5 separate regions of the Homo sapiens genome follow, and all the other regions are linked to region 2. The links come from fine-mapping of genetic effects on gene expression. A gene starts in region 2. Each other region holds a variant in brackets. All regions are shown on one strand. Distances are from middle to middle.

Region 1 (6,492 bases), 150 kb after region 2:
TTATAGATAAGGAATTTCCTGTACACCAGATTGGAAATGGAGTGAAACAAGCCCTCCCATGCCATGTCTCCGTGGGCCACGCCTTATGTAAGAATATTTCCATATTTCAGTGGGCACTCCCAACCTCAGCACTTGTCCGTAGGGTCACACGCGTGCCCTGTTGCTGAATGTATGTTGCGTATCCCAAGGCACTGAAGAGGTGGAAAAATAATCGTGTCAATCTGGATGATAGAGAGAAATTAACTTTTCCAAATGAATGTCTTGCCTTAAACCCTCTATTTCCTAAAATATTGTTCCTAAATGGTATTTTCAAGTGTAATATTGTGAGAACGCTACTGCAGTAGTTGATGTTGTGTGCTGTAAAGGATTTTAGGAGGAATTTGAAACAGGATATTTAAGAGTGTGGATATTTTTAAAATGCAATAAACATCTCAGTATTTGAAGGGTTTTCTTAAAGTATGTCAAATGACTACAATCCATAGTGAAACTGTAAACAGTAATGGACGCCAAATTATAGGTAGCTGATTTTGCTGGAGAGTTTAATTACCTTGTGCAGTCAAAGAGCGCTTCCAGAAGGAATCTCTTAAAACATAATGAGAGGTTTGGTAATGTGATATTTTAAGCTTATTCTTTTTCTTAAAAGAGAGAGGTGACGAAGGAAGGCAGGAATGAAGAAGCACTGCGTGGCCTCCGGTGGAATGCACGGGGCACAGCCGCGACTCTGCAGGCAGCTTCCCCCCCATGCCAGGGCTCTGCGCCGTCATGTGAGACTTAAAAAAAAAGTTGAATGACTTCGTGATACTTTGGACTTCTAAATTAAATTTATCAGGCATAAATTATGTAGAATTAGAGGCTTTGAAAATAATACTGGTAGGTTGCTCAAAGGTTTTGAAAGAGAAATCGCTAGGTAGGTTACTATCTGGCTAATCCATTTCTTATCCTTGACAATTTAATTCATATTTGGGAAACTTTTAGGGAAATGAAAAATAAAAGTCACTGAGTCTGGGTGACATTTTTTAAGAATAATATAAATTCAGTTTCAAACTCTTCTCACATTAAAATTTTGCTGTGAACTCTTACTAAAATGAGTTTTAGGTTCTGTAAGTGGAAAAATGTGCTTTTATTTTATGGGCCATTTTTACCACAACTAATCTTGCCTTGGATTACTAAGCATCTCCTGCGATCCCACAGAGGACTGTGGTGGCCACAGGAGCTGAAAGCAGAAGAGTGGGATTTGATGCCAGGCAGTGGAGTGGCCTCAGCCCCAGATTGTACCTCCTGCCCTGTAGGAGGGGAGGGGGCAAAGCCTTCTGACTTCACCTTTGTTTGACCTATGTATGGAACTTACTTTTACTTTTTGCCTTAAATTTTTAATGAAATGCAAATTTTCTGTGATGGGGTTCTCTCTCTCTTTTTTTCGGGGGGTGGAGTCACTAATAAATTTGCAAATGAAGTTAAAGACAAGGCAACCATCTGGCTTATGCTATATAATACTTCATTTAAAGAAGAAAGGAAAAGCAAATGCACTTGCAGCTTTTGAGGTCTCAGCAAAAATGGGCATGTGTCTTTTTTGAAGTTTAGAAATATCCTAATCTATTTTTATTTATCTAAAAGTAAGTGTTTTCCGGCTGATAAGGCTAACCCTACCCAGGAAAGGATTGATAACTAAATAAATTTCCTCTGTTTTCCCATGCATTGAAATTATGTTGGCTGAGCATGGTGGCTCACACCTGTAATCCTAGCACTTTGGGAGGCCGAGGTGGGCGGATCACTTGAGGTCAGGAGTTGGAGACCAGCCTGGCCAACGTGGTGAATCCCCGTCTCTACTGAAAACACAAAAATTAGACGGGCATGGTGGCGCACACCTGTAATCCCAGCTACTTGGGAGGCTGAGGCAGGAGAATTGCTTGAACCTGGGAGGTGGAGGTTGCAGTGAGCTAAAATTGTGCCACTGCACTCCAGCCTGGGTGACAGAGGAAGACTCCGTCTCACAAAAAAAAAAAAAGAAAAAAGAAATTATGCCAGCTGTTTAATGTGAGAGAATAGAAAGAATGTTCATGGAATGTACCTGCCCTGTAAAATGTTTGATCATTTTCATTAATGTTGCAGAGAATCCGACTGCTATTAAGAGAAAGTGAACAAATTAAGAATTTAAAAGACAGGTTCAGGCATGTCATAAGTGAAAACAAGAAGGCTTAATACAAACTTGTTGGGTTTTGTTCGTGTGTGTGTGTGTGTGTGTGTGTGTGTTTTTTTTTGGTTCAGCCTATCTAGCCACCTACAAATAATCACATTTCTGTTACCTGAATTTATTTCTCAGCCTGTAAACCTTAGTCACTGTTACCTGTTTCTTGCTCAGTGAATATGAT[C/T]TTGGCACTGTCATCTAGAAAGCAAGATATTTGATTGGTTTTCTGGTTCCTTCGAAGATAATAATTCCATATCCAGTTTGACTGATTTTCATACCCCTGAATCAACTAGTTATTTTCATGAAATGGTTTTTGGATATCTCTCCTCTAGTTTGGAGAAGTAATAATCACAAAGATTAATATTTTGCTTCTAGTACTTACAGTAGAAGAATTTTAAACTGGTACGTCTACTCCTGTTAAATAGAAAGGGGATTCGTTGTATTATGTGCTTGCTTTTTTTTAATCAATAGAATAAGATTCAATGCATATTTATGTTTTATATTTTCCACTATTCAGGTATCATGAAATCACTCTAGAGATGATCAATCAACATCATATTTATACTTTTGGTTAATTATATACTACTCAGGGAAAAAATGAACAAAAATAACTACTCATCCTTCAATTTCATTTTCTTGAAACAGTAAGAGTATAATTTGGTATGCCTCAGCTGTCACCATTTTATAAGTGGCTCATTCTGTTCTTAAAGTAAGTATTTTTATTGGAACTCAGGGTAATTGGGGGAATTTATTTAGCTTCTAAAATATCCGGCAGGATAGAGAAGATTTATTTGGCTTCAAAAATGTCTGGTGACCACTTCTCTTATTAGCCACTACTGCCCATTTGCTTCAAAAATATATTTATTGGTCTCCACCATGTGTGACACACACAGGATTTCCAAACATACCACTTTTGAGAAAAATGTGCAGTAAAAAGGAGGTTTCTAGAAAGTGACAGTAACTCACATTTAAGCACTAGCTGACCTAGGAGGAGACCTGGATCTTCATTCTGGTTCTGCCTTTCATGAGACTTAAGACTTGGAGGAGCCACCTGTCCTGTAGACCCCAAGTTCCTCAGCCATAAGCAAACGGGTTAATCCTAAGAGTTCAGGACCAGTTGGGTGTCGTGAACGGAGCCATTAGCAAGGTCTGTAGGATTCAAGGACTTGGGCACATTCACAGTCCACACTATTGTCATGGTCATTGACTTACTACTTGAGCTCAAAGCCCTGACATTTCAAAAGGTTGTCATGATAACAGTGAAACCTCTGAATCCCTTAAATCAGAAGGCATGGCAACATACTTTTTCTACTGGCAATAGCTCTTACAATGAGTGTTTCATAATGAAATAGTCTCTGCTGAAGAAAACATGTTTTCCTTTTGCTCTCTCTGCTTTGTTGGTTTCTGTGCTGTGTGGAATTGGAGAAGATATATGCTCTGAAATATTTTATACAGATTACTGACTACTGGACAGGGTTTACCACTATATAACATCTCAAAGTTATTCAAGGATATTTAAAGCATATTTAGTTTAGTTACACCTTATTTTAAACCGCAGAAAACAATAGCTTTAAAATTTTTGCCATTAAAATAATTATAAATTTATACTTTTACTCAAGGACTAGATCACAGTTTTAGGACAAAAATCTCTCCTATTTAAAGTTCATACCTTGTAAGTATTTAGTTTGTATATTCATGAACAAATCTGGACATTTATACTTTTTTTGTTTCCTTATCAACTGTTCACAATTATTAGTTAATTGGTCTTAACAGTTCTACATTATAATTGAAAGAAAAATTACTTGAGAAAATAATTGTTTCAGAATAGTGCCTACTATATCTGTGTCAGCTAAAAATTTGTCCAGAGTTTTAGATATAAGCTAGTATTTTGTGGAGTTTTATCCAGGCGTTAATAGTTCTTCCTGGCTGAAATTTAATATAGGTGCAGAATCCTAAATAACACTGTGAGATGTAATCTTAACTGCCCTCAATACCTTATAAAACTGCTGCATTTAACCCAGTGTGCATTTAATGAGTGGCTGGTCGTTGATACACTCATCTTAGATGCTGAAATTTCTGTTTTCTCCAGCCCTTGTAAAAGTGGGTTTCTTGATGAACGCGTGCTCCCAATGCTGAAGCAAAAGATTTGCATTTAAGGAGAGAAATACACCCTGAAATTTGAGTTTGAAAGATTAGAACATAGAGGGTCTCTACAGTGTTTTTCTGCAACACCAAGTAGTCAAATCTATTTATAGAAACTCTGATTACAACAGAAATTTTAAAATGAAATTTTCCACATCGGTATTTTGTAGGAAAGCTCTTATAATCAATGCTTAAGCTGCTTTTTGAGGCTTTTCTTGTACAGAGGTTGCAGCCAATTACATTTTAATTGGTAGGCTGCTGAATAATGTTTTTGTATGTTTTAAAATAATATTTATTTTAATAGGTTTTTTAACATTATGCAAATCCCAATAAAGAACTGACACGTTCCATAGGCCATTGACTGGGAAATTTTGTGAAACACAGCCTAAATACACAGTTTTTACACCAACTAATTTGTCTTGCCTTTAAAACTGATTATAACTCTTCTTTAAGTACAACTTTTATAAAGAAAAAATACAACACTAAGACTGTATGTTCTGTAAATTATAGTGTGATGACCCATGCAGAACCGCTGTCTGAAGCTTACTCAGCGATTCATAGCCATCTCCAGCCATGTTTTATCAAATCACACACTAAAAATAAATGGAAATGCTACAGTGAAAAACCAAAAGTTACAGAGCAACATAAGTAAAATGACTAGGCAGTTTCTTAGTAACATGTTTGAAATGGGAAAGGTGACTGACTGCCTTTCACCAGAGTCTTAGCTGTTTCACGTTCACTATTTTAGGTTAATTTTCTTGGGAAATCAATTTGAATATTCCCCCCTGTCCTTTTGCATTAAAGGACGAAAATATATGTTGAGAGTTTGACAGACTTTTTAAATATGCCTCTTTCCCAATTTTATGTATTTTTGGTTCTGCGCACACAGATTTATCAATGAAGTACATTTGCCTCTGGCTTTATCACAAGGAAAAAGGAATCAAACATTGAACACAAATGTGTTCCAAACCAGTCTTGTCCATCTTGTCACTTTTATGTGACTGCTCCTCTGAACCAGAAGGGGCACGATAGAAGGCCATAGGAATGAAAGTAAATCATTCAGGTGAAGTGAGAAATTCTTCCATATACAGAGTGAAAATGTGTGATTTCATTCCTGCCTTCCTTTAAACGTTGTCTTGATCTCTGCCTAGTAGTAGTTGAGCCCTCAGTCGCCCAAACATGAGGAGAGACCCAACTCCAGCAGCCAGAATTTAGTATTTACATTTGCCTTCCCAAGTTGAGAATAGAATGTGGTGTTCTGTGCTTTCTGTTTTTATTATTCCAAAATATTTTTTTAAAGAAGTGTTATTTTTCAACAGATTCATAAATTAGTTCCTGATGTACGGTAAATTAAAACTCCCACTGTGTCAGTCAAACTGAGATGTGCTCATTTCATAACCACTCATTTCTAGTCTGTCAGAGCTGCACTGGTGGCTTATTGCTGGTTTTTAAAGGTGTTTTTAACTTACATGTAACATGTTTAGGACATGTTTTTTTTTTCTAATTTGTGTGTCTTTACAACTGATTAAACAGTAGTTTAAAAATATGCGTGTGTGTGTTTGCTAATATCTTAGGCTTTTAATTCCACTTATAGAACAATACTGGCCCTGTTACGAGAGTTAATGGTCATTTTTATTGAAGGATTCTTTAGTAATATGGTGATAATATTCTGAAGAGTCATTGACTCTTTAACTGCTTAAAGATTATTTAAAAGAAACTATTGTCATAAGCACTTTGGAAGGTAATTAAAACAACCTTAACTTAGTGTATAGTATCTGTATTCTCTCCTACAACAGACTTGTCAAGTGAAGAAGATACTGACTTTGCTCAGCTGAAAGGGAACGCCCACCTCCCAGGCCCTGCAGTTAGCTGGTTCGCAGCACTCCTGTGGGAGGACGGGTGTGGCTACTGGGAAGCAGAGCGCTGGGACTCTGCTAGATTTCTGTGTCATCACAGACCTAGAAGAACTTCAGAGCGTGCCTGGGGGCTCTTCCTTTATGCCGTTGTGAACAATTGTAGGGAAACGTCTTCTGTTTTACGCTTGTATAGAGATGCTAGGCTGAGCAAACTCACAGGTCCATTCCTAGTGCTTTCTCTCTGGAAGACCTTAGAATTTCATGCCAGATTTAAGTTACCCCATTTTGAGGTTCAAGACCATGTTGAAA
Region 2 (6,423 bases):
GGATGAACAGTTACCATTATTCATATTTAACAATGGGAAACTTAAGGCACAGAGAAGCTAAGCCAATTTCTAAAGTTCATAGCTATCTGGTGGAAAAGTTAGGGTTAAAATTCAGGTCTTTTAACTTCAAGCTAAGCTTCTTTCTTACAGACATATTCCTTTGATTTTAACATTAAAAAAAGAAACTTCCTTGATACTTTTCTTGTAACATGTGAATTTGTGAATACGACTGTTTTCTTCTTTTGATTACAGGCATCATTTATCCTTTACGTCACCCCACATAGCTCCTTGAACATAGTAAGTGGTCAATAAATGTTTTAACACAAGAATTGCTCTTTATAGGATGGATGTTACCCAAGGTAGGGCAGTGAGGCATTATATACAATTAGTTTAATTCTTTTCTCTTTTGTCTCCACTGAAGAGCTTCTGGTATAATTAGCAGATACTGGTCAGGCTAATTGTATGGCCTGCACACAGTTTATGCTACCATCAATGAGTTATCAGCTTAAAATGCCAGCTTCAATTCTTCATTAAAAACATGAAGAGGTAGTATATTTAATACGAAACAAATGGTTTCCATTTTCAGAATTATACTAAATTTCTTGGATTAATATTATGTGTCAGCTTGACTGGGCTAAAAGGTGCCCAGATAGAGCTATTGAAACATTATTTCTCAATGTGTATTTGAGCATGTTTCCTGCAGAGATCAGCATTCGAATTGGTACATTGAGTAAAGATTTTCTCACCCACGTACCCCGGCGTCATCACATCTGCTGAGGGCCCAAATAGAACAAAAAGGTGGAGGAAGGGTGAATTCACTCTGAACAGGGACATCCATCATCTCCTGCCCTCGGATATCATTGCTCCTGGTTCTCAGGCTTTTGGACATAAACTGAACTACACTGTTGGCTCCTGTGTTTCTCAGGCCTTTGGGCTTGGACTGGACCTACACTACTGGCTTTCCTCGGCCTTTAGCTTACAGATGGCAGATGATCGTGGGACTTCTCAGCCTTCATAATCTCAACCCAATCTCTCATAATAAACTTCTGTCTATCTATTTCCATATCTATTTATTATCTATCTATCTATCTATCTATCTATCTATCTATCTATCTATTCTATCTAGAGTTCTCCAGAGAAGCAAAACCATATCTATCTCCTATTGGTTGTGTTTCTCTGGAGAACTCTAATATAATCTTTCTTAAGTTTTATCATGCACCAAGCACTGTTCTGAGCTCTTCATATAAGTACACCTTTATAACCTCATAAACTATGGAGTTGGTGCCATTATTACGCTCATTTTTACATGAGGAAATGGAGACTTAGAAAGGTTAAATAACTTGCCCAATATCTTGCTGCTAATAAATGGAAGAGACTAGGTGTGTTTGATTCCAAAATCTAAGCTATTATTACTACTATACTATATTTTACCTATAGTTTTGTAACTCTGACACAGCAAAATTTTCCCAGATGGCTAAAATCTTCCCTATTCTCTCTCTCTCTCTCTCTCTCTCTATATATATATATAATTTATTTCTTTATATTTTTTGAGACAAAGTCTCACTCTGTCACCCAGGCTGGAGTGCAGTGGTGTGATCACGGCTCACTGCAACCTCCTCCTTCTGGGTTCAAGCAATTCTCCAGCCTCAGCCTCCTGAGTAGCTGGGACTACAGGTGCCTGCCACCATGCCCGGCTAATTTTTTTTGTATTTTTAGTAGAGACGGGGTTTCACCATGTTGGCTGGTCTGGAACTCCTGATCTCAAATGATCCACCAAACTTGGCCTCCCAGAAGTGCTGGGATTACAGGCGTGAGCCACCATGCCTGGCCTATTTATTTTTTTGAGACAGGGTCTCACTCTGTCATCCAGGCTGGGGTGCAGTGGTGCGATCACAGCTCACTGCTGGGATTACAGGCATGAGCCACAGCGCTCAACCATTCTAGATATTAAATAATTTCATGTAGTTACCCCAAATACAGATTATGTTCTGTCATGTCTGACTAAAATAAAAATTTAGCTTAAGGAAACTCCTTTCTGCAGACATTATTTGTTCTAGCTCTGAGATTGTATCTCCATGCTGCTTACTTTAGGTTGCAATATGTTCCCAACACCCACCTTTCAAGTTTTTAAAATGGCATTTCAATTTTTTCTTCAGTTTGTATGCTCAGCCACCTGTGCGCTTCCTCTACTTTTCTAAAGTGAAGAAAAGGAAAAAAAAATGGTTTCTTTCTAATATAATATTAATAGGTCTGGGTTTTTGGATTAATATACTGTAATAAGCAGCTCTCTAATTGATTACAAATCCCACTGGAACACTCCCCTGGGGGAATGAAGGTCCTGTTCTTTTTACTCTTCCTTTTATCCTCTATTCCATTTCAGCTGAGAATCCACCAAACTAGGATTGAGTCGACCAGTGAAAGGATTCTAGGCAAGACGGGATTGCACTGATGAGTTCCACTGCCTCCTTTTCAGAGAGACAAACGTAAGCCCACAGACTGATTACTAAGGCAGGTGTATTTTTATCTGTGCTGCCTTCTTATTCAAGACTCTAAGCTAGTCATCAACCCAATGGTATAACTGATAGCTGACGGGAGTTTCTGGAATGGGTGTTAAGTGTGAGAGAGATGAAGGCCTAGTGATAAGGTCGGCTCTAAATGTAGATTTACTTGGATTCCAATCTACTTACCAGCTGTGTGCCCCTGGGCAAGTTACCTCTTCTGTGACTCAACTTCCTTGAAGGAGGGTGTGTAAAAGTGTCTATTTCACACGGTTATTGTGAGGATTAAATACCAAAAGTATTAAAGCTGTGGTTAAACTCTCAGTAAACATTAGTTATTTCTACCAAAGTTAAACTGCCAAATCCTTGAGTCTTGATTTGTCCTCATAACTGCTGTGGCATTTCTCCTCTTTTAAAGTCTTCTGAACAGAAGTTGACGTTTGCATTTTAAAGGAACTCAAATGGCTTACTTTTACGAAGTTGGGGGGATTATATATACACGTGACCCGCCAGGGTATGTAAACCTGGCGGACTTCAACAGTCTGGGGGTGCCTGCGCTCAAGGGGTGAAGGGATGCTTAGAAACTTTCTCAGGAAGAAGGTGGGGCCTTCAACGAGGGCGGCTGGCTACAAAGAACTAAACTTTCACACAGCAAAGGGGAGCCGGTCTCCCTGCGCCCGCGGGCGTCGAACCCAGGCCCAGCTCTCACCACCCAAAGGCCCGGGTGCGGCTGCAGGGTGACGAAAGCGTCAGACCCCGGGGCTGCTCTCAGCTTTGGGCTTTCACCCGGCACTCTCCCAGACAAAGGGGCTTCTCAGCCAGGTCGCTGTTTTGGTTTGTCGTCCTCCCAGCCCCCACCTTCGTCCCCAACTTCCCCTGGCGCTGGCTCGGCGGCGTCCCTCACATCGTCCCTCCGGCCGCCACCCCGGGCCCCTTTGTTGTCTGCCGTCTCTCCCAGAGAGGGGTGGGGGGCCGCGACATTCCAGGGAGGAGAAACCGAGGAGTGAGGGGCAAAGACGCTCTTCCATGCTCTCACCCGAGGAGCGCGCCCCACGACGCTGGCCAGCCGTTCTCCGGCGACGGCCCGGGCCGCGCCTCGGCGCCCTCGCCCGGGTCCTCGGCACGGGGGAGGGGCGTGGCGCGGCCGGCGCTCTCTGATTGGCTGCGGGCGTCAGGGCGTCGCGCCGCGATTGGGTCGCGCAGCTGTCTGGAGCGAGAGCGCGCGAGGTGGGGAGGGGGCCGCTGGAAGCTGCTGGAAGTCGGGGGCGGGGGATGCGGCTGGGGCGCCGGGGCGGGGACGACGGGGGCGACGGCAGGACGGGCCGCGCCTGTGCAGGGCGGTCGGGGGCGGCGGGCGCGGGAGGAGGTGGCGGCGGAGGGGGAGGTGCGAGCCGGGCACCGCCCCCGGCCCCTCCCCGGCCTTCCCCGCGCAGAGCTCCGACCGCGGGCGGCCCAGGGGCGGGCGCGCCGCTGCATCCCCATCCTCGTCGTCGCCCGGCACAGCGCGAGCGGGCGAGCGGCGCGGGCGGCCGGAGCGCCGAGGCCCGGCCATGGCCACCACCAGCACCACGGGCTCCACCCTGCTGCAGCCCCTCAGCAACGCCGTGCAGCTGCCCATCGACCAGGTACCCCGAGGCGCCCTGGCGCCGGGCGTCGCGCCCTCGCCGCCCCTCCCCGCCGCGGTGCCACCCGACCGGGGGCCCGGGAGGAGGGTGGGGGCTGGGGCCGGGCGCCCGGTGCCCCCCTACCCGCCGCTCCCTGGAAGGGAGGGGGCAACAAGCCGGTTATTGTCCCAGAGCCCCCTCCCTCCTGGGTGCGCCCCCAGCCCGCCATCCCCGGGCCGAGCGGGAGGTGGGCCGGGCGTTGTTGCCGGCGACAGCCCCCGGGGAGGGTGGTCGTATGGGCGTGCGGGTGTGCATGCGGTCCCTGCCCTTCGCGGCAGCGGCGCTCGGATCCGGTGGTCGGGTCCCGGAGCAGCCCCCGGTGCGCATGGACCGGGTTGTGGAAAGGGTGCGGAAGGCTGCGCTTTGGGGAGCCTGGCGTGGTGCTGCCTGCCCCGCGCGCGCCTCTGAGCGACCCCCGGAGAGGCTGATGCATGGGTCTGGGTGTGCTGGGTGCCTTAGAGACGGCGTCGATGGGTGCTAGGGGCCCGGAGAGGCTTAAGCGCTACTGCACTTTGGGGACAGTTTGCGTTGGATTGTGGCTTAAGAGAGACAGAGGCAACAGTTTGTGGGAAGGCAGACAGGTTATGAAGAAAAGTCGGAGTTAATCCCAGGATTCTTGCTGACAAAGTGGCAACCTTGTAGATTGATGCAGCCACTTTACCTCCTTGCCCAGCCCTCAGAAAAGCTCTTGACAGTGTCTAGGGAAGGGTGGTATTTAAATGAGGCCAATCGAGTTTGATGGTTTAAAGGGCCTAACGATTACTGAGAAATAAACAGCATTGTGATGGGAAAAGCAGCGCCATTTTTACTGAGAAAAGAAAGTTTGGAAGTATTTTGTTGTGACAGTGAGATTTAGGGAAGTTGTTAATGAGGCGGGGGCTGGGGGGCGGGGGTGTATAGTTAGGTGATTGCTCTAGCCCCAGGCTAAAGGTAGTTAACTTTGGAAATTTTGCTTACAGTTATTTCAAGTGTACTTAACCTGGAAGTGTTTGGACTTCACACGGGATACTGGTTCACTGTCTTGAACTTGAAGGTGCTGCTGTCATTTAGTCTTCAGGGATTTCACTTCAATACGGGATTCCTTCTTGTCCAGACGGCTTTCCATAGCAGCAAGCTGGAAACCTGACATTAGGATACTAGCTGCTTTGTGCTTTACTGTTTTAAATAAAATCGCCTTAAGTATGTCGAAGGAGTGTTAAACAATTGTGGCTTCTGTTGAAATTCCACATCGCGGTCATAACTTCTGGTTAATAGTAAAGTACCTATCCCCCACCTGTCTTGAACAAGAGTTCTAATGGGTGTCTTGCTAATAAAGTATGGTAGTGAAATTAATCGTGTATTCGAAGAAAATATTCTTCTCTCTTTATTAATAAATTGACCAGAATTTAGGGTTTTTCATCCTCCCGGCCCCGCGGAGGATTCTTGCTGACATTTCCACACTGGTGTGCAGTGTATGACCTTTTAGCATATCACACTCCTGCCTTAAATAGGCTACTTCCAGTATATCAGCAAATGCAGGGTGGGTGTCTGTTGAAAAGTTCTTTGCTGATGAGGAGCAAGGGAGATAGGTTTATATATTTACATTTCTTTCAGAGAGATGGGCACATGTTCACGTTCCCTTTTTCTCTCCCCCATCTTTCTTTCCCTCCCGCTCCATGTCTGCCATAGCCCTACCCGTCCCTGCTATGCTGAAATATTTTCTTGACTATGCTAATAATACCTATTCATTTATATAATGCTTATAACTTTTTAAAGTGATTTGCTATTAATGAACGCATTTAAGCATCCAGAGAAAGTTCTTTTCAGTACTGAAGTAAGCAGGAGAATCAAGGGAAAGTGACAGGACTTAAAATTTTTGACATCCTTCTTTATTAGCTAAAGGTCTTAAGTTGGTACCTTGGGACTACTCTAAATTTGTACAGCCATGTGTAGCCCTGACTTTGTATAGCACAGTCGTGCACTGCATAGTGACATTTTGGTCATCAGACCACATGTCTGCTGGTGGTCTCGTAAGATTATGATGGAGCTGAACAATTCCTATTGCCTAGTAAAGCTGTAGTCATTGTCATGTCGTAGCACCACGCATTACTCATGTGTTTGTGGTGATGCCAGTGTAAACAAACCTAATGTGCTGCCAGTCCAAACCTACTGTGCTGCCAGTCCTATAAAAGTCTAGCACATTGTGTATACTACACAATTAGGTACAGTACGTAATATTTGATAATCCTAAGTGCATCACTGGTTTATGTATTTACTATACT
Region 3 (6,492 bases), 46 kb before region 2:
CTTGAGTTTATTATATGTAGCCAAATAATCCTAACATGCATGCTCATTTCTTGTAAAACCAAGTTTAGACTCCTAAGAACTGTTCAGAGCTCTATCTAACCCAGCCTTTATTCACTTTCTGAACCTTATTCCTTATTGCTTCTTAATTAAAACCTTTCTCTGACCAGCCTGCTGGCCTCTGTATTTGTAAACCCACCCGGCTCATTCCCCTACCAACCACAGCTTTGCGCATTTCAGTCTTACCTTCACTGTTTGTTCCCTTTTTAAACCCCAGCTGTCTTTCAAAACCCACTTATTTCAAAACTCTCCTTCACAGTGATTACTCTTCTTTGGATTATCTGTGGCCTTTCCTGTTTGTCCAATTTATTTGGCATTTGTCCTACACATTCATGAATCATTATTGCTTTTTTTCTGTGTATGAATAAAATTATAAGATCCATGGGCTCAGAAACCACATGTTTTGCTTGTGTTCTAAAGGAGAAGCAGAAACACTTTCTCATTCACTACTGCTGCCAGGTCACTTGCAAAAATTACACCCAAATAGGAGATTCCCCTTTTGCTCTGAGAAGTGAAGCTAACCCTTACACTCATTCACTAAATCCATGTTTATTGAGCACATTGCAAGTGCCAGGTACTGGCAACACGGATACACAAAGGGATCCGCCCTTGCAGGCCTCATAGCTGACTGCGGCACAAACAGGTCACATGGAGCCTTGTGCAGAGCCCAGAGTGTTTGGAACTTGGTCTTCAGGTGACCGATGGTGAGAAAGTACTGAGCTGACAGAGAGGGAGAGCATTCAAGAGTCCAGTCTTCAGTTGCACGTGTTCTGTGAAACCAGCAAAGCCCCACACCTGTTGATACTTTAGAGGGGATAGATACACAGCTTGCTCCAGAATATGCTTTCTTCTAGAATTTGAGTTCAGCTGAGATACAGACACAGAACCCAGCCTGATGGAGATAACAACTTGAATGCTGCAAAAAACCAGAATGAGGGTGTGACCTAGGTTTGTGGCAAGAGGAAATGCTATCATTCCTCTGAAATAAACTTACCCCACCAGTGGGAGGCCTCACCTACAGACAACATCAGCCCAACTAAGCTCACTGCATACCAGGAAGCAAACCGGGCTCTAAGGAAAATCAGCTTCTAACCCAGGTGAGAACTTTCAGAGAAACAGAGAAGATACTTCATAGTTCCCACACTCTGCTTCTGGAACCCCCGATGCATAATGTCATCTCCATCTTTCTCTCTGGGACTCTGGGGAGTCACAGAAGCAATGTCTGTCAACATGCTGCCATCTGGGAAGGCATCTGGAGGGGTGGGGAGTGAGAGAAAGCTCTGAAGGGCAATGTCATAGGAAATGCAAAATGACTTGGGTTTAAATGCCACTTCTGTCATTTATTCACTATAAAACTCTGTAAATAATTTCACTGAATGTCATTTTCCTCTTCTGTAAAATGGGAATTTTACTTCATAAGGTTTTCATTAAAAATGTACCTGGTATATTACAGATCTCAAAAAGTGCTTCTAAAATTTTTATTTTAAAGGTGACTTTTGGGGCCAGGTGCAGTGGCTTACGTCTGTAATCCCAGCATTTTGGGAGGCTGAGACGGGTGGATTGCTTGAGTCGGGGAGTTTGAGACCAGCCTGGGTAACCAGGTGAAACCCCGTCTCTACAAAAAACACAGAAATTAGCTGAGTGTGGTGGTGCACGCCTGTGGTCCCAGGTACTTGGGAGGCTGAGGCGGGAGGATCGCCTGAGCCTGGGCAGTCGAAGCTCCAGTGAGCCGTAATGGTGACACAGAGCAAGATCCTGTCTCAAAAAAAGGATGCTTTTTGGGTTTCTAACTTACCTCCTAATTAAGTAAATAATTTGTTGCCTAGTAATAAAAAGATAAAAGCAATAATTTGCTACAAAGGGGACATTGTTGATACTATGTCTATATATTCAAGCTTAGGGGAAAGAGTGAAAACACATCTAATTTGGTTTAATTTCTCCTCAGCACCCGATAAAATGTAAGTATTTGGGAGTTGCTGGGATGCGGACAGTTGATAGCAAATACATTTAAAATTATAGAAGTGCGGCTGGGCGCCGTGGCTCCCTGTAATCCCAGCACTTTGGGAGGCTGAGGTGGGTGGATCATGAGGTCAGGAGTTCAAGACCAGCCTGGCCAAGATGGTGAAACCCCATCTCTACTAAAAATACAAGAATTAGCCAGGCATGGTGGTGGGCACCTGTAATCCCAGCTACTCGGGAGGCTGAGGCAGAGAATTGCTTGAACCCGGGAGGCAGAAGTTGCAGTGAGCTGAGATTGCGCCACTGCACTTCAGCCTAGGCGGCAGAGTGAGACTCCATCACAAAAAATAAATAAATAAATAAATAAATAAATAAATAAATAAATACAGAAGTGCACAGATCTTATGGATTTGTCCAAATTTCATCCTGTAATACTGAATATTTTAGAAATTTCAGACGTGTTGACTTAATGTGGCATCAGAGGGATGGGTAGTCCTTATGGTGTGCAATCATCACCTGGAATGCCACACTGTCCTTCTCCTACATTGAACTCCAGGGTATGATTATTCCATGTGTGCCTACCCTCCTGTGTTAATTACTGTGATGGATTGTTTCACTCTCTGAGATGACATTCCTTTAATTTTTTTTCCAACAGAAAAACATAAAACTACTCAGTAGGAACAAGGAGCATTCTGTTAACAGAATATTTAATAATTGCTTTTGATATTTAACTCGATACTTATAATACCATTTAAATAAGCAGTCTCTGAATAAAACTACCGGTTTAAATTCAGGTAAATAAGGTAGCACGTAAAGCAATAAGATAATTTCGAAACCAGGAAAAAAGAAAATTGGTGATTTGCAATAGCAAAGACATGGAATCAACCCACGTGGCCATCAGTGATGGACTGAATAAATAAAGTGTGGTACATATACACCATGAAATACTACGCAGTCATAAAAAAGATCAAAATCACGTCCTTTGCAGCACCATGGATGCAAGCTGGAGGCGATTATCCTAAGCAAACTAATGCAGAAACAGAAAACCAAATACCACATGTTCTCACTTAGAAGTGGGAGCTAAACCTTGGGTGCACATGGACATAAAGATGGGATCCATGGACACTGGGGAATGTAAGAGGGGTGGGAGAGGAGGCAGGGGCTTCAAAACTACTGGTTGGGTACTATATTCACTACCTGGGTGACAAGTTCAATCGTGGTCCAAACCTCAGCATCACACAACATACCCATGTAACAAACCTGCATGTTTACTCCCTGAATCTAAAGTAAAAGTTAATAAAATAAAATAAAACTGGTGCTCTGTTGATTGAGAAATTAACAGCATCTTTATTTTATTCAACAAGATCTATTGACCGTCATGTGACCTCATGTAACCTCAAAGGAATCACACTCAAAAGCAGGAAACACACATACAAATAGGGACTT[T/C]CCAGAGAGAGACAGAGTCCCTGAATCACATCCATTTTTTGAGGTTCCTGATGTACCACAAATAAATAAATTAATTAAATAGTTATAGTTGGGAAACATGATTATAAAAATGGTAGTAGACTTTAAATGTTTGCACTTAACAACAGAAGTGGCGTGATGGAAAACTTCTTTTAATCCTGTCAGTGCATCTCGTAGCTATTTATATAACCTAGTCAGAGATAACATCCAACAGCTGACTCGGAGGCCCTTTGTAAATAGGCCCTGATATGCACAGATAATGCAAGGGCTCAGCCCTGGTCTTAGCGGCCACTTTTGCAAGCAAGATCTACAAGATTTCCGCTGACTGGAGTACTTTGGGTCTGTGTTTACGTGGGCCAAAAGAAACGAAGAGATGAGATGAATATCTGGCTAATTCAGGTAACATCCTCCTCCCCGAACATTACTTTTAAAGAAAAAGCGAGAGGCTTGAGCTGGAATGAGGAGAGATGGATGTAGAATAAGACAACTGTGCACCGGCCTACATGAACAGCTGTGGCCCCAACCATATCACACCTCATGCCTCTGCCTAGCTGCTTTTGTGATGCAGGCCCCCAAAGCCACACTGTGTCCCCATCCCACAGGTTGGACTCTCACCCACACATCTCTTCCCCCTAGAGTTTGGGACACCAGAGAGCCAGGCTGCCTGGCAGCTGGAGTCACTAGGATCCCTAGTCTACGCGGGAAGAGAGACAACTCTGGCTGTGGTCAACTCGATTTGAATCCTGTCTCCAGAACATGTGGCCTTCGTTGCTTCATCTCTACATTTCAGTGTCCTAAACTGTAAAATGGGGATAACCGCAATTGTAGCCACCTTACCAAGTTGAGGCGATGAACCCTAGATTGTGTAGCTCCTCGTACGTGTTTTCTCAAAGGTGGTGGTGTGTGGTGAGACACCCACAACTAGTTTGAGCACTCACTGATGATTCTTGCCTAAATCAATTATTGGTATGATAGTTGCAAAATGGCAACCAAGTTCAGCATTCTCTCTAAACTTATTAATTATACTAGAAGATCTTTCCATTCTTCCATTCTCTTGTGTACTTATTTTTGTTTAATCAGTGTGGATTAACGGATTCTTATTTTACCCAACGGGTTATAATCCATTATTATTATTATTGATCTTGACGCTCACGTTTCCCCAGACTTTGATCAGTGAGAGCTTCTGCAAGCTGTTCCCCATGTCCTTTGAATGTATCCTTTTTTTTTTGAGTACTTTTTTATTTGTTATGGCATAACAAAGCATTCCAGGCTCATAGTACATTTTCCCTGCCCCACTCTTATAATTGGCTTTTTTTTTTTTTTTTTTTTGGAGAAGTGCTGCTTCTTTTTACTGGGAAACAGTATATAGAATCTGACATCTGGGTGCTAGGCATGTTTATTGCTTTTGGGTATCATTGTTTCTAGGCCGTTTCAGCAGAAAAAACTAGAGAATACACACAAATATTCACAAATGTAATTATATCTATACAGTATTTAGAAACCATGAATTCCAATTCAACACCGCAAGGCTCTTCTTAGCCTTTTACCATTATGTATTAATATTTTCCTTCTCAACGTCATCAATACGTGTACTCATTTGTTCACTCCTACATACATAGCAAGTTGTTTAGAATTGCTAGCCCACAACACTGCTAAAATAAGCCCTACTTAAATACAGTTCAAGATTTGCTTGCAATAGGCTTTTTCCTTGTAGTCGAAATACTGTGTTAAAAAGTTCCTCAGGGTGAGTTTATTTTTTAAAAACAAAGTTATTTGTGTTAGTTCCCCTCCCTTTTACTGTAGTCACGCTCTCTATTTTAAATACCATTGAGTTCATTTGTTTCTGTTTGTGTTACATCTTAGGACTTCCCCTCCTCCATCTTATTGACATAGTTTAATTTAATTTTATTTAATTTTGGTGTATGTAAACATTAATGTGGTTCTGGAAGTCCATACTATACAAAGAGATATTCTTTTCACAAAAATAAGCTAATATATATATATATATATATATATATATATATATATATATGTCTAACATCTATATCTGTATGTCTTTCATACACAAAAGATACCAATATATGTACTCCTTTGTTCTTTTATTATTATTATTATTTTGCTTAACAACATGCCGTAGAAATGATTCCATATCAGTTCAGATATATTCCTTATTTTTTATAGCTGCATAGTGCTCCATTGTGTGGATATACCATACAGAGTTTTAATGGATTTTCACATCTCACTTTATCTTTGCAATGCCCTGTGAGGGAGAATGTATGTTATTATCCCCATTTCATAGTTGAGAAAATAGATTCAGAGAGGTAACTGATGAGTACTGACAGGGTGGGAGCTGAGACTCAGTCTTGAGTTTGAGGCCAGCCCTCCTCTGACTGCTGTGCTGTTAGTCTCGAGATCTCTCATCCCTCTATGGCAGTGGTCCCCAACCGTTTTGGCACCAGGGACCGATTTCATGGAAGATAATTTTTCCAGGGGCTGCGGGATGGTTGCGGGATGAAACTGTTCTGCCTCATATCGGGGCATTAGTTAGATTCTTATAAGGAACGCGCAACCCAGGTCCCTCACATGCACAGTTCACAGTAGGGTATGTGCTCTTATGAGACTCTAAGGCTGCCACTGATCTGACAGGAGACGGAGCTCAGGCAGTAATGCTCGCTGGCCCGCGCTGTGTGGCCTCTTGCTGTGTGGCCTGGTTCCTAACAGCCCACGGATCAGTATCCGTCCGTGGCTTGGGGGTTGGGGGTTGGGGACCCCAGTCTACACCTTAAGGTAATTCAGTGTTTGTGGGCTAGTCTGGAATGGTGACCACTATTTATAGTGTCTCTAGGTTTAATTGTAATAATAATGTGTTCTGAGTTCTAAACAATCATTAAAACAAAATTTAGTAAAGTATCCTACATCAGGGTCCTGAGTATGTTCCAGCTTGGTAATTTAAGAGGAGTTAGTAAAGGACCTTGTTGTTGCAGGGAAGTAGAAATTAGAACAATAGTGAGA
Region 4 (6,492 bases), 83 kb before region 2:
CTACTAAAAATACAAAAAATTAGGTGGGCGTGGTGGTGGGCGCCTATAGTCTCAGCTACTTGGGAGACTGAGGCAGGAGAATGGCCTGAACCCGGGAGGTGGAGCTTGCAGTGAGCCGAGATCATGCCACTGCATTCCAGCCTGGGCGACAGAGCAAGACTCCATCTCAAAAAAAGAAAAAAAATTAAAATTAAAAAAAATAAGAGGACATTATTAGCAACTTTATGCCAGTAAATTTGGAAGTTTTGATGAAATGTATAAATTCCTAGAAAAGTAAAAGTTACCAGAATGGACACAAGAATAAATAGAAAATCTTAATAATTAAATACAGCATTTAAAAACCTTCCCATGGCCAGGCGCAGTGGCTCACGCCTATAATCCCAGCACTTTGGGAGGCTGAGGCAGGTGGATCACGAGGTCAGGAGTTCGAAACCAGCCTGGCCAATGTGGAGAAGCCCCATCTCAACTAAAAATACAAAAATTAGCTCGGTGTGGTGGTGCGCACCTGTAGTCCCAGCTACTCAGGAGGCTGAGGCAGAAGAATCACTTGAACCCAGGAGGCAAAGGTTGCAGTGAGCCAAGATCGTGCCACTGCACTCCAGCCTGGGTGACAGAGCGAGACTCCATCTCAAAAAAATAAAATAAAATAAAAAAATAAAAACCTTCCCATAAAGAATAATCCAGATCCAGATGGCTTCTTAAGTGAATGCTACTAAACATTTATGAAAGAAATATCATCAATTTTACATAACTCTTAGAAAACAGAGAAAAGATTCCTCAAGATTTCTATGACACCAGAAGAACCTGATTCCCAAATTTGATAAAAACATTACAAGAAAGGAAAATTAGAGACCCATTTAATTCAAAGAGATAAATGCAAAGATCCTAAGTAAAATATTAGCAAACCAAAATAAAGTATTATGTAAAAAACAGAATACATCACAACCAAATTGGATTTATTCCAGGAAAGCAAAGTTGATTCATCATTGAATAGTTCTATTTTCTTTTTCTTTTGTTTTTTGAGGCAGAGTCTCACTCTGTTGCCTAGGCTGCAGTGCAGTGGTGAGGCCTTGGCTCACTGCAACCTCTGTCGCCCGGGTTTAAGCAATTCTCCTGCCTCAGCCTCTCAAGTAGCTGGGATTACAGGCGCCTGCCACCCCGCCCGGCTAATTTTTGTGTTTTGAGTAGAGACAGGGTTTCACCATCTTGGCCAGGCTGGTCTTGAACTTCAGACCACGTGATCCACCTGCCTTGGCCTCTCAAAGTGCCGGGATTACAGGTGGGAGTCACAGCGCCCAGCATCATTGAATAATTCTTTACCACATTAATGGAATAAAGAAGAAAAACACAGTTTTCTCAATAAATGTGGGAACAGCATGTGATAAAATGCAACATGCATTAATAAAACAATTCTTAGCACTGGTAATAGAAGGGAACTTCCTTAATCCAATAAAAATGTATTTATTTTTAAAATCCACAGCACGTGTATAAAGGTGAATTTTTGTAAATGTTTCTTCTAAGAACAGAATAAGACAGAGACAGATAAACTATTAGATTTAATAAGTGAATTTAGGCTGGGAGCAGTGGCTCACACCTGTAATCCCAGCACTTCGGGAGGCCAAAGCGGGTGGATCACCTGAGGTCAGGAGTTTGAGACCAGCCTGGGCAACATGGTGAAACCCCATCTGTACTAAAAATACAAAAATAAGCCAGATTTGGTGGTGGGCATCTGTAATCCCAGCTACTCAGGAGGCTGAGACATGAGAATTGCTTGAACCCAGGAGGCAGAGGTTGCAGTGAGCCGAGATTGCGCCACTGCACTCCAGCCTGGGTGACAGAGCGAGACTCCATCTAAAAAAAAAAAAAGTGAATTTAGCAAAGTTGTTGGAAACAGCCAATTAACAAAAATCAGTTGTATAAAACTACAATTATGAATTACATTTTAAAAGATAAAACTTAAACATCTTACCTAACAAATAATTTTGTTAGAAATAAATCTAACAAACATCTTCAAGAATTCTATGCTGAAAACGACAAAACATTATTAAAAATATAAAAGAAAGCCTGCAGGGTGGCTCACGCCTGTAATCCCAGCACTTTGGGAGGCCAAAGCGGGCAGATCACCTGAGGTCGGGAATTCGAGACCAGACTGGCCAACATGGGGAAACCCTCTCTCTACTGAAAATACAAAAATTAGCTGGGCGTGGTGGTGAACCCCTGTAATCCTAGCTACTCAGGAGGCTGAGGCACGAGAATCTCTTGAACCCAAGAGGTAGAGGTTGCAGTGAACTGAGATATTGCCACTGCACTCCAGCCTGGGCAACAGAGTAAGACTCTGTCTCTAAGTAAATAAATAATAAAAATATAAAAGAAGACCTAAATAAATGGAGAGATGTTTGTGGACTAAAAGTTCAATTATCTCAAGATGTCAGTTCTCAAATTGATCTATTCCAATGCAATGCAATCTCAATAAAAATCCAGTAGGTATTTTGCAAAAATGCAAAGTTGATTCTAAAAGTTATATGATAATGCAAAAGGTCTCAAATAACCAAGCAATTTTTGAAAAAGAACAAAATTGAAAGGATTTCTCAACTGGATGCCAAGCCTTCGGAAAGACTTCAAGGTGGTATTGACACAGGAGAGGCAAATAGATGATCAGAACAAAACAGAAAGTCCACAAGACCCACACATACAGGAACACTTGATTGGTGTCAAAAGCACCACAGCAGAGCAGCGGGAGACAGGATGGCTTTTCAACAAACGGTGATGGGTAAAATACAATGAAACCTGGTCACTACCTTACACCACACATAAGAATCCATTCCATAAGTAGAAGAAGCCAGACACAAAAGGCCACATTTTGTATGATTCTCATTTGCATGAAAGCTTAAAAATTGGCGAAACCAAGATGTGGTGTTAGAAGCCAGGATAATGGTTACCTTTGGGAAGGAGTGATGGGTAGTTGTGGAAAGGGCCGTGAGCACAGCTTCTGGGGTTACATGAGTGGTTACACGAGTGTATTCACTTTGTGACAACTCACCAAACTGTACATTGAAAGTATGCACATTTTTCTCTATACATGTTATATTTTAATTTAAAGTTAAAATTTTTTGACCTTGCCACTTACAGCTTCATAATGGTGGAGAAGTTATATAATTTTCCTAGGCCTCCTTTTTATTTTTTATTTTTTTGTAGAATGGGGATTATAATAATCTCCACTTTGTAGGTTGTGAGAATAAATATGTTTCATAAATAAGCACTTTGTTCAGTGACTGGCCCATACTGGAGGCTTGATAAATGTTCCATGTTATTAGCTGCTAAGGTCATTTAGATAGTGGTGGAACTGGGATTAAAATTAATCCAGACAAATATGTTTTCTATCACATATCCT[C/A]TGGCACAGGGCTGCTTATTAGCTGGGCTTGAATGGAATGCTGGATTTAAATAGCATTTGCTATGAGTTATCATAAATCGTCTTCATTCTCAATTTTATATTTTGCAAAATGTCAAGTGTATTAATTCCTCCCTCTTCTCAATTCCTATGAGTATACTTTGGAATCTCAAGTATTTTAGCGTATCTCTTCCCACTAAAGATGAAAGTACATTCTAAATAGTCCAATCACCATGTTAGAAAACTGTTTAGAATTGTTGGCTCCATCAGGGCCCCAAGAGGGAGAAGAACATCCGGCTGACCTGGGGGCTGTGGCCAGGGTTGCCCAGCCACTAATCACCTTTCAAATGACTGTGTTTATAGAAGAGCATTGTAGAGCGTGGCTCCCTTGAATCAGATTGTAACCAAGACCTCATTAAGCGGCACAGAGAAAAAAAAAGTTAAAGGACACATTAGTTTCCAAAAGGAATGTTTGGAAAAGTACTCGAAGATGAAGCAGCTGAAAAAAGAACTGTGTGTCTTATTAATTAGCACATCAACAGACTTCTGTCCCGTGGATTTGATCACAGTGAATGCACTTTTGGATGTGAATCAGCAGTTCTTGAATCTTAATGAAACCAGTCGGCAAGAGTTAATCACAGCTGGTTCCTGAGCTTATGTGTAATTAAAATATCCAGCCAAAAGAGAATGTCTTAAAAAAAAGGATAGTTTATCACTTTATCATTTTTAAGAGTGTGAGTTAAGTATTTTGTGATATAAAATTTTGAAGGCAGACTGCAAACATCTAAGTACCATATGATGGCACCAACGTGGAAGTGTTTATACACGGCAAAGAATGGAAGACATATACAGTGGGGAAAATCGTTATGGTATTAGGATAGTGAGGTTAGGACTGCTGACTAAAATTTTACTTTAATGCTATTGTGTTGTCTGTATTTATTTACTTATTTTCTTGAGACAGGATCTCTCTCTGTCACCCAGGCTGGAATGCAGTGGCGCAATCTCGGCTCACTGGAACCTCTGCCTCCTGGGCTCAAGTGATTCCCCGACCTCAGCCTCCCAAGTATCTGGGACCACAGGCACATGCTACCATGCCCGGCTAATTTTTGTATTTCTGTAGGAACAGTGTTTCACCATGTTGCCCAGGCTGGTGTCAAACTCCTGGGCTCAAGTGATCTGTGCCCCCTTGGCCTCCTAAAGTTCTGGGATTACAGGCATGAACCACAGTGCTTGGCCAAATGTTATTGTGTGTTTTGTTTTACTTTTTAAAATAAAACAATCTTTAGAGGGGCCCTGGTTTCTTGTTCGTCTTTGATGTACATCTTACTGTCCCATACTGATAGTAAAAGTCACTGAAAAAGCACTTCCTCCAGCATGATTTGTTGATTAGATAACACAGCTAACATCTATGCAGACATTGTAGTTAAAATCTAAGGTCAGTGAATTGAAAAGTGAATCTTCTGGATAAATTATTCACAGTTTTATTTATATTAATTTCTACTCCACCTCCATTGTAAGAGGATATAAAGACTGCAGAATTTTCTAATATGGATAGTTAATTCTTTAGGTATTAGCAGTAACCATGTGTGCCCGAATTTAAGTATATCTACAGTTGTAAAGTCTACTTTATTTAATGTGGAATTGTTATTTTTACCTAAAATAAGTAAGGCTTTTAAACATGGATATACTGTAGCATGGCCAGAAATAGAACTAAAACTAGATTCCCTTGTACAGAACTTAACAGTTAAGAAGAAAAAGAGGGGGTGGAAAGGCATAGGTCTCCTTCCAAAAGCATCGTTATCCAGAGGAAGGAGCTTTCTAATTGCACCTGACATCATAAGGGACAAAACATTTGAACTCCTGGGTAGTTTCTAACAAAATACTGAGATTACTTTTGTTTTTCTCTCATATCCTAGTTTGAGTTCGTTCTGAGTTTTTACTCAACATATTTAATGAGATATAGATGCCATGTCACTGTGGGTAGCTCTTACATATTAGAAGTTCATTCATTCCCTTAGCTGGCTAACAAATCCCAGGGAGCTAAATTGCATAATGCAATGCCTAGCATTTCATTGCTGACATCCACTTAGCCTGAAATCTCTTGTTGGTCATGAGGAGGAACAGAATATAGTCACAGCCATGGTCAGTAAACTTCTGTGTATTTTGTCTCGGCCACTGTTGGATTGCTTGAGCCCAGGAGTTTGAGACCAGCCTGGGCAACATAGTGAAACCCCATCTCTACAAAAAAGCAAATTTAAAAAAGCTGTCCTGGTGCAGTAGCTCAGGCTTGTAGTCCCAGATACTTGGGAGGTTGAGGTGGGTGGATTGCTTGGGCCTGGGAGGTAGAGGCTGCAGTGAGTCACGATCGTGCCACTGCCCTCCAGCCTGGGCAACAGAGCGAGAGCCTGTCTCAAAAAAAAAAAAAAAAAAAAAGATTCCATTCATCTGAACTGGACCCATCTAGATCTCAAACATATTTTTGCATGGCCCTGTTTATAAACAACTTGATTAAAGATGTATTACAAGTTTCATGGGCCATATAACTTTTAATGATTTATCAACAAAGATTTAGAATCATTGGTAGAAAAGAGAGGCTTGTCTTTGTGAATCCTGCAGTTAGGGCACGTGAGGAGTCTTCGTAATGTCTGGCCACCATCTCTTCCTGCTCAGGTCCAGGAGCCATCGTGTCAAGTTCTTTATTGTCAGATGTGCCTTGGCTGGGTAGTTTCACATTTCTCATTATGAGGAAAAAGTAGCAACGCTGTTATTGCTCTCAATGCTGTGGCTTTTTGGGACCTGTTAATATTGAAACTATAGATCAACTTGCCTCTGGAGTTCCCTGATGTCATTTGTTTCACGCTAGGTGCATCATTACTAGGACACCGCATCCTCCATCATGGCCCTGGTGAATATTGGCTTCCAATGTCTCCCTAAAGGCTGTCACCATAATTCGTTTATGATGACCACAAATGCAAGTCTCGCCCAGAGTGTGCGGGAAAATGTTTTCTGGTCATCTTAAACTTACTGTCTAAGGTTTTGCAGCCATGTCTTCTCTTGATTACCTTATGCCATGATTACCGCATTCCTAGAATATGGTCTCTTTC
Region 5 (5,000 bases), 120 kb after region 2:
TAATTTTGTCCATAGATCTAGAAGTATCTGATGACAATATATATATTCAACTCAGAAGAACAACAAACCCCATTTTGTAACCTGTTCTTTTAAATGGATTTAATGGTAATTATCTCTTTAGAACAGTTTAGATTGTGATTAGTCTTGGCAGCATTTGAGGAGTTCATACACTTTAACTTTTCAAACTAGGTTCCTCTTCCAGTTTGCTTCAGTACATCCTCTGAGACAGTTTGCTGCAGGCCTGCCACATCCCATACCACCTACCCCTTTATTCCCAAGGGATAGATTGAACCCTGTCTAAGCCATATTTTCTCAGCTAATCTTTCAGAGAAGGGCCTTATTATCTGTGTATTGGGGGACCCCAAGACCACTCCCAGTTTGGTGATTCACAGGACTGAGCATGTAGTTGAATTCAAGGCTAACATTTATTACAGTGAAAAGATTCCAAGCAAAGTCAATAAAGTACAAAGGTGCCTGTAATGAAGTCTGGAAGAAACCAGGCACAAGTTTCCAGAAGTCCTCTCCCAGGGGAGTCACAGAGAACGGACTTATTTCCCCCAGCAACAGATTGTGACAACACCTGTGAAGTGTCCATCAGGGAAGCTCTTTAGACGCTCAGCACCCAAAGTTTTTACTGGGGGCTGGTCACATAGGCCCCCGCTGCCTAGCGCACACCAAAATTCCAGGCTCCCAGAAGGAAAGCAGGTGTTCAGAATAAACCACATTGTTGGCACAAATAGGCTAGACATAGGGGACATTTCCTATCGGTGTAGGGGACTGTGGACCAGCCAAGTTCTCATACACCAGCCGTGGGCACACCTCATAAGCAGGCCTTTCTAAGGATAGCATTCTCAGAACTATGTTAACTTGTTTCTGCACAGCCTGGTTCAGGACCACCCCTAGATGAAACCAAATAAATTACCTACAGCTGTGTCTGTTTTTCAACTATCAATCCAGTGGCATCATTCATATTTGCATCTTCAGGAAGCAGGTGTTATTTTATCTTTGGGTATTTCTAGGCATGGTTTTTAAGACATTTCATCACCCTCATATAATAGAGCCTGCTTGCCTTTCTGGCTTTGAATCATGTATATGAGATTGCTGAGGGCTTAGGATGAATGACTAAAATAACCTGCTGGCATGTTTGCTCATGAAGTCTGGCTTGTACTGTGGCCTTTAGGGATAGTGTAGCTGGTTGTCTTGCTGGCAGCTTCATTGATGTCACCTCACAATAGGAATACTTGAACCTAACAGAATGTTTGTACAGGTTGAATATCTCGTATATGAAATACTTGAGAAAAGTGTTTCCGATTTTGGATTTATTCGGGTTTTGGAATATTTGCATACATGTAATGAGATATCTTGGGACCCAAGTCTAAACACAGAATTAATTTGTTTTATATATACCTTATACACATAGACTGAAGGTAATTTATACATTATTTTTAATAATTTTGTGCATAAAACAAAATGTGTGTACATTGAACCATCAGAAACCAAAGGTGCCACTATCGCAGCCACCCATGGAGATAATCAGTGGTTGTTTGGCATCGCCATGATTCCTGACTCCGAATTTACATGAAAATGATAAGCAATCATTTTCTTTTACCTATTCATACATAAGTACTAAACAGTGGAAGATACGCCATTCCATTAATTCAGTGAAAAAATGGTATGTTCAGGGTAACTAAGCAGCAGAGTAGAATCACTGGACTACCCGTATCAGCTGTTAGACACAGCAGCAGTGGCAGGCTTTCAGTCTCCACCTGCAATGTGGTGTCATGCCAGGGCTCAGAAGTCTTGTCATACCCCATTGTTTGCTGCACTGCCTCACTTGGACTTGGTTAGACTTCTAGCTTTAAAAAATGATATCTTGTCTTTAATTGGTTTTTGTTGATTCTTTTGGCCAGTTCCCAAGTTTTGAACTGAGAAGGAAGGCTGGGTTTGTTGTGCGTGTAGACTTTTGACACAAGTTTGTTCTATGCAACTCTATCCTTTAAGCTCTGTGTCTACTTTTCTTGGTTAGTTTACACTTCGAAAGCAGTAATCGCTTCTCTGAGCAACATGGCAGACTGAACTGGTGTAGAGGCCCACCCTATGCCAAACACTTGGAAATGCTGACTAAATATAATGACATAGTTTATGTATGGCAAAGCTTGAAATCACAAAGAAGGCTATTAACATGTCACTTGCCTGGTAAAAGCATGAGGGAAAAAAGGATAAGGAGTTTTTAAAAATTGAATACTTATCCTCATTTCTAAAGATGGCTCTTTTTTTTTTTTTTT[A/TA]AGGAAAAGGTGGACAACATATATCTGATATGGGGGAAGAAAGTAGAATTGTCACAAGTAGGAATTACCCTTTTTTGGGGTTTAAATCCTGATAATGTTTTACCGTTCTCTAATCTTCGATCATCTTTTTTTTTAAGTGTTTTTTTCCTCCTGATTATAAAAAGTAGGTATGTGATCATTGAGGAAAATTTGAAAAATACAAATTGGAAATACGAAGAAAAAATAATCTTCCATGTCCCTCCCCCAACATTTCTCAGAGCCAGACTTTTTTTTTTTTTTTTTTTTTTTTTGGCTGAGTCTTGGCTCACTGAAACCTCCACTTCCCAGATTCAAGTGATTCTCCTGCCTCAGCCTCCTGAGTAGTTGGGATTATAGGCGCCCGCCGCCACACCCAACTAATTTTTTTTTTCTTTTTTTTTTTTTTTAGTAAAGACAAGGTTTCACCATGTTGGCCAGGCTGGTCTCAAACTCCTGGCCTCAGGTGATCCACCCGCCTTGGCCTCCCAAAGTACTGGGATTACAAGCGTGAGCCACTCTGCACCTGGCCCCTTCTTTTTTATTAATATTTCCTTTATCATCTTATGAGGCATGGTTTTCTTTTTACATAATTGTCAAAAGTGGAATGTGTAATATATTCCCATTCCCCAATTGTTGCATATATAGGTTGTTACTTTTTTTCTGCTATTACGTATAAAGTTGTGATGATCCTTGTCATAAATCTTGAATCACACCTTCAGTTATTTCCTTAGGGCTAGAGTTGTAGGAATAGAAGGTAGAAAGATTTCTAAAGTGTTTGCTATACTGGTTTACAGCAAGATGATGTGAGTTCCTCTTGGTACCTCATTTATTTGTTTATCTTCTGTCTCCCTACTAGAATATAAGTGCTATAAAAGCAGGGAGTTTGTTTTTCGTCTGCTCTTTCCTCAGTGCATAGAATAGTTCCTGAGGCATTTTAAGACAGTAATTATTTTCTTCTCATCTTTGTTTTATATACATATAAAATACATAAAATGTGTGTTTTACATAATTTAGATTGTATTATATGAGTAAGAGCCCTTTAAAATTTCTGCATACTTGTAATAGGTGAAAATGGCATCTTGCTCTTTTAATGTACATGTAATGATTTATAATGAAAACATTATTAATCGTGAAATTAACATTTCACGTTAGTTGGCTACATGTATTCTACGATTTGTCTTTTCATGTTTTTAGTTTTGTCTATTTATTTCACTGTTTTTTAATTGCTTTAGCTTTGGTTCTTTGGGGGAATATTACTACTTTACTAATATTAGTTTATTAATTTATTAATATTAATGTTGCTATTTGCTTTTTAATTTCATTCCCCTTTGGTCTTTAAATTGGATTTGAGGTATATATTTTTAAAGCATATGGATCTAGTAAATTGATGTGTAATCTTAAATAATATATCCTCCTCTTTGAAGAGAAACGTAAATAGATGGATGAAGATGATGTATTTGAGTTTGGTTTTCATGCATTGGAGTCATGGAGGAGTAAGGAAATTGCTCTTTGCTTTAGGTTGATCTTCTAGTTTATAGTACTCATGTGTAGTCATTTAAGTCATCCCATAATAGAAAAATTGTAATGCCCCTTTTCGAAAAGTCATAGCATTTACGATTAAGGATAATAACATTATAATTTTTAAAGTGCCAGCATTTGGGAATTCTTTAATTATAACTCCCCTTAGAGTGGAGTCAGATACCCAACCATGTGTTATTTTATAGAGACTTTTCACATGATCGAGGCTGTGTTGCCATGAGAAGGAAAGGAACAGTCATTATATCAAAATTAGGAATATAATAGCATGAATTTCAAATGAGGAAAGTAATGAAAGTGTGCATGGGCAAAAATGCCATTTTGGGGAGAAATCTTAATTGATGAGTACCTATTTTTGTTTCTCAGGGATGTTTCGGAAGGATGAAGAACTGACTTCCTCACAGAGGGATTTAGCTGTAAGGTACGTGCCTTTGCATCCTATTCTGCCATGCTTCCTGCGCCCCTGCCTAGGACCCACGTTCCTTCTGTGGCTGAGGCTGACTAGTCCTTCTAGAGGTACTTACTTCTGAAAATCAAGCCTCACTCTCTCCATGCACTTCCCTCCTGCCAAAGCCTGCTGGGCAGGCCTGGGCATCCCTTCTAGGGCTCCTGTAGCACCCTGCCTCTGCGATTGTACATTTGCGCCTCCTATGGGCCACGAGGTTAGCTGCTAAAGTTTTCATCCCTATGAGACTCTGAGTTCCTTGAAGACAGGAGGATAGTATTGTCTTCATGTCTGCCATGTAGTAATTACTGGTAATAATAGCAGCTACCATTTACAGGCCAATAACTTGATGGCAGGTACTGGGCTAAGATATAATACATTAATATAGCACATCGATGCCATATTTTGAAATAATAAAGAACCAGTCAGATAATTCTCATTATTATTTGAGGAATTCATTCTGGGATAAGCTTCTACTTCATTTATTAAAGGCACTCTGATGACTAATCTAAGGAATGGCTTAATTTCACAGTGTCTATCTCAACTAATATAATTTGAGATGGAATACTCATTATACTTAAAGAAAAATTTCCCACAGATTACGTTGTTTCCAAATCTAGAATGAATAAGTGCATAGCTGCTAGAAGAATGAGATTGTTTGTGATATTATTTAGAACTACACTAAGTATTCATCTTTCATCCCAAGTAGCATGTCT

Evidence for each region. PIP is the estimated chance that this variant, and not a neighbour inherited with it, causes the effect.
Region 1: its variant is fine-mapped to the expression of MBOAT2 in whole blood (TOPMed, PIP 0.99).
Region 3: its variant is fine-mapped to the expression of MBOAT2 in T cells (TOPMed, PIP above 0.99).
Region 4: its variant is fine-mapped to the expression of MBOAT2 in visceral fat (GTEx, PIP above 0.99).
Region 5: its variant is fine-mapped to the expression of MBOAT2 in whole blood (INTERVAL, PIP above 0.99).

Annotation. Positions count from the first base shown.
Region 1 is chr2:8,852,071-8,858,562 of GRCh38, reverse strand. It overlaps MBOAT2 (membrane bound glycerophospholipid O-acyltransferase 2), which reads left to right. Exons shown (of 13, transcript NM_138799.4): 13 at 1-5,873. Among named protein-coding and RNA genes, the nearest start is that of KIDINS220, 18 kb to the right of the region's middle. RefSeq lists a silencer at 3,210-3,504 and an enhancer at 3,094-3,645. The variant C/T (reference allele first, on the strand shown) is at 2,370.
Region 2 is chr2:9,001,240-9,007,662 of GRCh38, reverse strand. It overlaps MBOAT2 (membrane bound glycerophospholipid O-acyltransferase 2), which reads left to right and starts at 3,979. Exons shown (of 13, transcript NM_138799.4): 1 at 3,979-4,123. The coding sequence starts at 4,049. LOC124907728 (a long non-coding RNA gene) reads right to left here and starts at 3,587. Exons shown (of 2, transcript XR_007086199.1): 1 at 3,535-3,587; 2 at 1-2,194. RefSeq lists silencers at 3,606-4,065, 4,609-4,903 and an enhancer at 4,668-5,322.
Region 3 is chr2:9,047,540-9,054,031 of GRCh38, reverse strand. No RefSeq gene overlaps it. Among named protein-coding and RNA genes, the nearest start is that of MBOAT2, 47 kb to the right of the region's middle. The variant T/C (reference allele first, on the strand shown) is at 3,463.
Region 4 is chr2:9,084,533-9,091,024 of GRCh38, reverse strand. No RefSeq gene overlaps it. Among named protein-coding and RNA genes, the nearest start is that of MBOAT2, 84 kb to the right of the region's middle. The variant C/A (reference allele first, on the strand shown) is at 3,392.
Region 5 is chr2:8,881,771-8,886,770 of GRCh38, reverse strand. MBOAT2 (membrane bound glycerophospholipid O-acyltransferase 2) reads left to right here. Exons shown (of 13, transcript NM_138799.4): 6 at 4,206-4,260. Among named protein-coding and RNA genes, the nearest start is that of KIDINS220, 47 kb to the right of the region's middle. The variant A/TA (reference allele first, on the strand shown) is at 2,286.